2 linked regions of the Homo sapiens genome follow. The protein of the gene in region 1 purifies or fractionates together with the protein of each later gene. This does not show direct contact. Each region holds a gene or a part of one and is shown in the gene's direction. Other genes may lie near its edges.

Region 1 (4,069 bases):
ATTCTATCTTCTGTCATATGAATGTTGAGCAAAGCTTAGGCCAACATGAATTGTTTGTGAAGTGTGGTTGATGGTGCTTTGTTTTTTTCTGACTACTTCTATGGAAGGCCAGTGAAGAAGCAAAGGAAGACATGAAAATTGACGCTCATTCTTCTTCCTATTGTTCCCTGACATCCAGCAAATTGTGAATTTGAAAAATGATGGCCAGTTTTCAGAAGTGCTGACAAATTCATATTGGTATGCAAAAGCTCATCACCCATTAAGGTTTGTTGTTGAATCAACAGTACTCAGCATATTAAAACAGTACATCAGAACTCATGCCAACAGTCTTTATGATGGGATTAAGGTGGACAAGATCTCCTAAGATCTGTGAATGGGATTAAGGTGGACAAGATCTCCTAAGATCTGAAAAGAAACCTTAATACGCTCATATGGTTGGAGTGTTAAGTGAACCTCTGATTTTGTCAGGGTTTTTCTACGTGTAGGCGTGAATAGGGGGCACCCCTTCAAAACTGTACAAAGAAGACGACTGTTTTCCATTTCCATTTAAACATTTTTAGCCACTTCATTTCTATTTATTGAACAGGTCAAATTTGTCTTGTTATTTGTGAGTACAGTACATTTAAAAAACATCCTTATCGGTTATTTTTTTTTCAGTCGGAGTTTGACGTATAAATTGTTTATGCTTTTGGTGTAATCTCTTAATAAACTGGTTCTTCAAAAATCATCCTATAAAGTGAGTTTTCATGAAGTTAACGGGATTTTGGTGTGATGTGTTTTGCAAATACTTATTACCGAGACCAGGTAGATCGTCACCTCGGCTCCCGGGCAGAGTTCGCGTGCGTCCGCACCGGATTCCCCGCGGCGGCAAGGCGAAGCCAGGGTAAGGGCGGTGGGGACGGCGCCCCGGGGCTGCCCTGCGGTCCCCACTGCCTGCTCTGCGTTGCCCCGTAGCCTCCTCGGGCAACGGCGGTGTCCTCGTCAGACCCGGGAGGTTCCGCAAACGCCGGAGGGGTCAGAGAAGCTGGGGGACCTTGGGCACCGGGTGGAACGGGCGGGGCGGCTGTCCTTGTGCTCGGGCAGCGAGGGCGCCGGCGAGAAGCGCGGCTGCAGCTGAGCGCTCCGCATCCCTCCTGCCGTTGCTCCTGCTTCCGCTACCAGGGACAAGGTCGCCTCTCGGTCCGTCGGCGTGTTTTCTGCACCTGCGCACTGGGCAAGCCTTGGGCTTCCGGAGCCAAAAGGCCCCGGAAGTGGTCGGCCGCTTGCGACGCTCCGGAAGTGACGTGCTTTCCCGAGCCGGTGAGTGCGGGAGCGGGGAGCGGGGAGCGTGGGCCTGGGGGGTGGTCGCGGCCCGGGCGCAAGGAGGGGCCTCGGCTTGGGCCGCGGGGTACCGGGGCGCTGGGAGCGGGAGAGGCCCCGGCCTAGGAGCTGAGAGGCCTGGAGGGCTGCCGGGCTGCGAACCCCGGCGGGACCGAGCGCTGCGGCCCTGGAGTAGCGAGCGCTCGGGCGGTGGGGAGCGGCGCCTTGCTCCCCGGTCCTGCCCCACTCTCTCCGCAGAACCGCGTTTTGGGGTCAGAAGTCTTGTCAGCCACCCCGGTGGTGCTCTGTCACGGGATGGGTGCCGTGTGTGAGTTCCGAGTCAAGTTGTTAGGAATTTGCCTTGATCCAGCGCTCTAAGTATTAAACATTTTAAAGTGATTATTGGCAGTATACAGTTGCACAAAACAACATAAATATATACACATTTGGATGATAAAACAACAATAAAGTTTTGTATTGTAAACGCGCCTCAGGGAGACGCATTTCCAGATAATTCACTGTCCGTGGCTGGCTTCTGCCCAGTGAGAGCGGGTTACCCGTTCTATTCCCATTTACGTTCTCGTAGCTGTGGATACCGAGGAACGGCGTTCACACAGACCTGTAGGTGGGAATTAGAGGGGTTGTTGGGCAGTGTCACTAGAGAAATACCTTTCTTTTGTAAAGGGGAGGACCCATTATAAAAGGGGGACGGGAAAGGAGAATTCAAATTGTTTTAAACGCAGGTTCGTCCTCAGGCAGTTCTGTTTTAGCAGAGAGAACGTAGCGAAACTTGGGCAGAAAATGGATTCCTTTGAAATTATCCTGGCCTTAGTCCCTTGGGAAGTCTGTGTAGGCGAACCTCAGTGAGAAGATTCCTGCCGTAAAATGCAGGTGTCAGCAGCATGCCAGGGAGGCCAGAGGATACTATGTGACTTTGGGCAAGTGACTGAACCTCTGTGAGTCTCAGCCTCCACTGCTTTAGATGGGCATAAAAAATGTAAAGTCAAGAATCAGGTTTCCGCTGGGCGCGGTGGCTCACGCCTGTAATCCCAGAACTTTGGGAGGCCAAGGCGGGCAGATCACGAGGTCAGGAGTTAAAGACCAGCCTGGCCAACATGGTGAAACCCCATCTCTACTAAAAATACAAAAAAGTAGCCGGGCGTGGTGGCAGGCGCCTGTAATCCCAGCTACTGGGGAGGCTGAGGCAGGAGAATCGCTTGAACCTGGGAGGTGGAGGTTGCAGTGAGCCGAGACCGCACCACTCTGCTCCAGCCTAGGCAACAGAGCGAGACTCTGTCTCAAAAACATACCCAAAAAAAAAAAATCAGGTTTCATGCTCACAGGAGGATTTGAGGAGGGTTTATAAAGGGACCGTTTGCAAAGGCAGAGTGCAGGTTAATGACAGTTGGTCCTTTAGCCTGGAACTGGTGGCAGTGGAGTTTCTACTCCTGGACTCCAAAGGATCAGGGAAGGCAGCAGTGATCGGGACAGGGAGAAGAGTCACTGGGGAGGGCTTCTTGGACTGGAGGTGTGAGCCTCAGTCTGAGTGGGCAGGGAGGTCCATGTCCCGGCCTCCTGCTCCTGCCTCCAGTCTCTGGTAGAGGGCCAGGTCCCAGTAGGTTTTCCTATGGGGCAAGCTCAGGCTCCTGACACACAGCACAGGGCAGGGTGGAAAGCTGGTCTGGAAAAGCAAATGGAAGATAGCTCGGCATGCAGTATTACCCCTCGCAGGGTATTATCGTTAGGAATACATTTAAAAGTGGATATATTGGTTGGGTGTGGTGGCTCGCGCCTGTAATCCCAGCACTTTGGGGGGCCGAGGCAGGTGGATTTCCTGAAGTCGGGAGTTCAAGACCAGCCTGGCCAACACGGTGAAACCCCGTCTCTATTAAAAATACAAAAATGAGCTGGGTGTGGTGGTGGGTGCATGTAATCCCAGGTACTCGGGAGGCTGAGGCGAGTGGATCACTTGAACCCATGAGGCGGAGGTTACAGTGAGCCAAGATCCCACCATTGCTCTCCAACCTGGGCTACAAGAGTGAAACTCTGCCTCAAATAAAAAAGAAAAAAAATGGCCAGGGCGTGGTGGCTGATGCTTGTAATCCCAGCAATTTGGGAGGCTGAGGTGGGCGGATCACGAGATCAGGAGTTCAAGACCAGCCTGGCCAACATGGTGAAACCCTGTCTCTACTAAAAATACAAAAATTAGCTGGGCGTGGTGGCATGCAGCTGTAATCCCAGCTACTCGGGAGGTTGAGGCAGGAGAATCCCTTGAACCCGGGAGGCAGAGGTTGCAGTGAGCTGAGATCATGCCACTGCACTCCAGCCTGGGCGACAGAGCGAGACTGTCTCCAAAAAAAATAAAAATAAAAAATAAAAAATAAAATATATACACATACATATATATACATGTATATGTATGTACACAAATTAGCTGAGCGTGGTGATGGGTGCCTGTAATCCCAGCTTCTTGGAACGCTGAAGCACAAGAATTGCTTGAACCCAGGAGGCGAAGGTTGCAGTGAGGTGAGATCATGCTATTGCACTCCAGCCTGGGAGTGAGACAGAGTGAGACTCTTGTCTCAAAAAAAAACCTTTCTGTGATGAGGGCAGTGTTCTAATATGTGCTGTCCCATATGTACCCACTCGTGACATGTGGCTGTGTGCACTTAGATGTTACCTCAGGGACTGAGTTTTTACATTTCAGTTAATTTTAGCCAAATGGCCACATTTGGCCAGTGGGGACTGTGCTGGACAGGTCAAGGACAGC
Region 2 (3,500 bases), on another chromosome or scaffold:
TATGTAAAGATTTAATTTAAATTGTGGCAGCTCTTAGGTAAATATTCACTTGCTATCTTCTGTATCTAGCTAGATAGAGGAAGGCTAACGGCTAACACATATTTTCCATTCCCACAGTCTTGTCTTTACTACTTTGAGTTATTGGTTCCCCACCACATGGGACTCAACATCCCCCTTTTATAATACATTTTTTAAAAATTCTCCCTTTTCTACCCTGAAATAAAACAATAGGTATGTAAAAATATAACCTACCTGTATGTATAACCTCAGGTGGGAAAATCAATATAATGCCCTAACCATAATATAAAGAAAAGTATTTTTTAACAAAATACATATTTTAGCATGTAAATATTAGGGCACGACTACACTGTGAGACCTAATGTAGTCATGAGGTGCTTCCACCCATTTCTGAAATAACCTTGAACATGTAAGCAGCAAATACTGACTGGCAAATGGGTGTTATGTTGATAATTATAAAAACTCTAAAACCACCGGGTGCAGTGGCTCACACATGTAATCCTAGTACTTTGGGAGGCCAAGGTGGCAGATCACTTGAGGTCAGGAGTTCGAGACCAGCCTGGGCAACACGGTGAAACCCCGTCTCTACTAAAATGCAAAAGAAAAATTAGCCAGGCATGGTGGCGCATGCCTGTAATCCCAGCTACTCAGGAGGCTGAGGCAGGAGAATTGCTTGAACCCGGGAGGCGGAGGTTGCAGTGAGCGGAGATTGTGCCACTGCACTCCAGCGTGGGCGACAGAGTGAGACTCTGTCTCCAAAAAAAAAAAAACCTCCAAAACCATGAGCAGTGTTGTTATCAGTGACCTATGATTCCACAATGTGGAATCTTTCAAGTTATATAGTAGTTGCATTTCTGGAAATTTTAGTATTAAAGCAGTGTTTAAAAAAAAAAGGTTCTAGGCCCAAGTAATTATAAATATTGAAATATTATAGGTATTTTCAGCTGCAAGAATGTCTAGCTAGACATTGAAAAGTTGTACAGGATGAGGGAAATTTTTTTTATTATGTAGAACTCACCCATTTGACACCCCTCCCATAATGTAGATATCAATATCCAATAAACTATTATGATAACCATAAAATTATCTGCACAGATTTCCAAAGCATCCATAGTAGGGAAGTAAAATACCCATTTAAAGTTCTTATTAAATGCTTCTGATTTTTGACATGTAGTTTCAACTGCTTTAATTACCTTATTTCATCAAATCTAAAGCTCACTCTTATTTTTCTCATTTTAACATCACTAAAATTGTCTTATAATTGATATGACAGGAAAATATTGTGCTATTTAATTGGCATCATTTTCTGATGCATAAAATAATGGTGCATCTTAAGATATGATGTCTTAGATTTGATAAAATGCAATACGCTTATACTTAGGGCTTAAATTTTTTATTTCTATAAGTGAAAATGGATACAAATAATAGATTGGAGAGACATTGTGTAAAAACCGATACATGAGGCTTCATGACTGAAAGGTGAAAGCAGCTGTGCAAGTGGAGGTTTTGTTTTGTTTTTGTTTCGTTTTCATGGTACACCTGAGAATGAGTGGTATGAAAATGAAATTCTCATCAGGCACAGTGGCTCATGCCTGTAATCCCAACACTTTGGGAGGCCGAAGCGGGCAGATCACTTGAGGCCAGAAGTCAAGACCAGCCTGGCCAACATGGTGAAACCCCATCTCTACTAAAAATACAAAAAATTAGCCAGGCATGGTGGCACAAGCCTGTAGACCCAGCTACTCGGGAGACTGAGGTGGGAGAATCACTTGAACCTGGGAGGCAGAGGTTGCAGTGAGCCGACATTGTGCCACTGCACTCCAGCCTAGGCAACAGAGCTAGACCCTGTCTCAAAAAAAAAAAAAAAGAAAGAAAGAAAATGAAATTAACTCCTTTTTAGATGGTTTACATATGAAGGAACGGCTACACTGGGATGTTGTCAGTGTATAGGTGCGTGACCAAAAAGACTAAAGGGTGTTCAACAGGCTTTTCTCTAATTTGTGGGTACAGGTTCTATGACCATCATTTATGAAAAGTGTGGATTAATTAAAGCACAAAGTGACTAAAGGCAAGGTTTTATGCAGAAAGTGTTTTTCAGCCTCAGAATCCCAGGTGTCGAATGTACTTCTGAGAAGCACAGCCTTGAGTGGAAGACTCAGAACAACCCATCCCTACTACCAGAAACTACTCAAAACAGGATTTACTAGCTATGACCTTTATGAGAGATAATGGCTACGAGACAAAATAATCACTTTCAGTTGTTGGTGGCCTTTTTTTAAGGGTGTCTAATTTGATAGAGGAAACATTAAGATTGAACACTCAAAATGACTCTAGTCTGCTGAGGATGCCTACCATCAAAGTGTTGTCAGAGATAAGCAGTATCCTTGGATAACACATCTTTCCATTTCTTACCTCTCCCATGGCTCAGTGTGGAATAGGTCAGGACAGAGCACAGTAATCCCAAGCAGGCCTAATTCTGGGAAGAAATCCCTCATATCCACAGTGGCAGGTGGAGAATGGACTCTCAGTACTAGTAGATGATAGTTTACTGAGAGAGAAATCTTATCTCTGAATCTCAGAATCTTAGAAGAAAGTTGTTTTCTTATAAACAATAATTTTTATTTTTATTTCTTTTTATTTATTTATTTTATTTTATGAGACAGAGTCTCACTCTGTTGCCCGGGCTAGAGTGCAGTGGCGTGATCTCGGCTCACTGCATCCTCCGCCTCCTGGGTTCAAGCGGTTCTCCTGCCTCAGCCTCCCAAGTATCTGGGATCACAGGCACCCGCCACTATGCCCAGCTAATTTTTTGTATTTTTAGTAGAGACGGGGTTTCACCATGTTGGCCAGGCTGGTCTCGAACTCCTGACCTTATGATTCTCTCGCCTCGGCTTCCCAAAGTGCTGGGATTACAGGTGTGAGCCACTGCGCCCAGCCAACAATAATTTTTAAAATAGTGTTAAAATTTTAGAACAATTATTATAAAAAGTGGAGAGAAGTGAGTTCTCACATGCAAAATTATTTAATGAGATTGGGTACTTCACCTAGCTTAGTTACCTTTTTTCTTATGAGTAAAGTGTAGATTAATATCTTGTCTTATATATTTCAGACAGATGCCTTGGGGAAACAGTCTGTGAACAGAGGATTCACTAAGGACAAGGTAGGTTTCTAATTAAATATAGGAAAAAAAGCTTGAAGTCATATGGGACATCTAGAACAAGAGGCTGCAAATTTGAACATAAGTACTGTGGCTCAGTGATTTTGTGTAAGGTGATTTTCCAGCTGTAGAAGTGAGAAATATTTCTATGAACTTTGTGTCCTTGACCATGACCCCTAGCATAGCAGTTTAATTAAAAATAACAACCAAACTTTCTCCTCTTACCAGCTGCAAAGTGCCGCAGGACTCATTGGTAAGGGTGAAGCCTTTGGGAAGTACATGGCAACCTAAGAGAGACTCCTCAGGAACAGAACTATGAAAACCT

The links. Proteins that work in one complex are often made in the same cells at the same time.
Region 2: the proteins of MTG2 (region 1) and ATPAF1 purify together in Homo sapiens (affinity purification with mass spectrometry; one large-scale study listed by BioGRID and IntAct). This does not show direct contact.

Annotation. Positions count from the first base shown.
Region 1 is NC_000020.11:62,181,759-62,185,827, forward strand, and holds the start of MTG2 (mitochondrial ribosome-associated GTPase 2), read left to right. Parts: upstream 1-1,269; 5' UTR 1,270-1,299; intron 1,300-4,069. UniProt on the Homo sapiens protein: Plays a role in the regulation of the mitochondrial ribosome assembly and of translational activity. Displays GTPase activity. Involved in the ribosome maturation process.
Region 2 is NC_000001.11:46,658,365-46,661,864, reverse strand, and holds part of ATPAF1 (ATP synthase mitochondrial F1 complex assembly factor 1), read left to right. Parts: intron 1-3,127; coding exon 3,128-3,178; intron 3,179-3,500. UniProt on the Homo sapiens protein: Has a complex stabilizing activity in the assembly of the mitochondrial F1-F0 complex.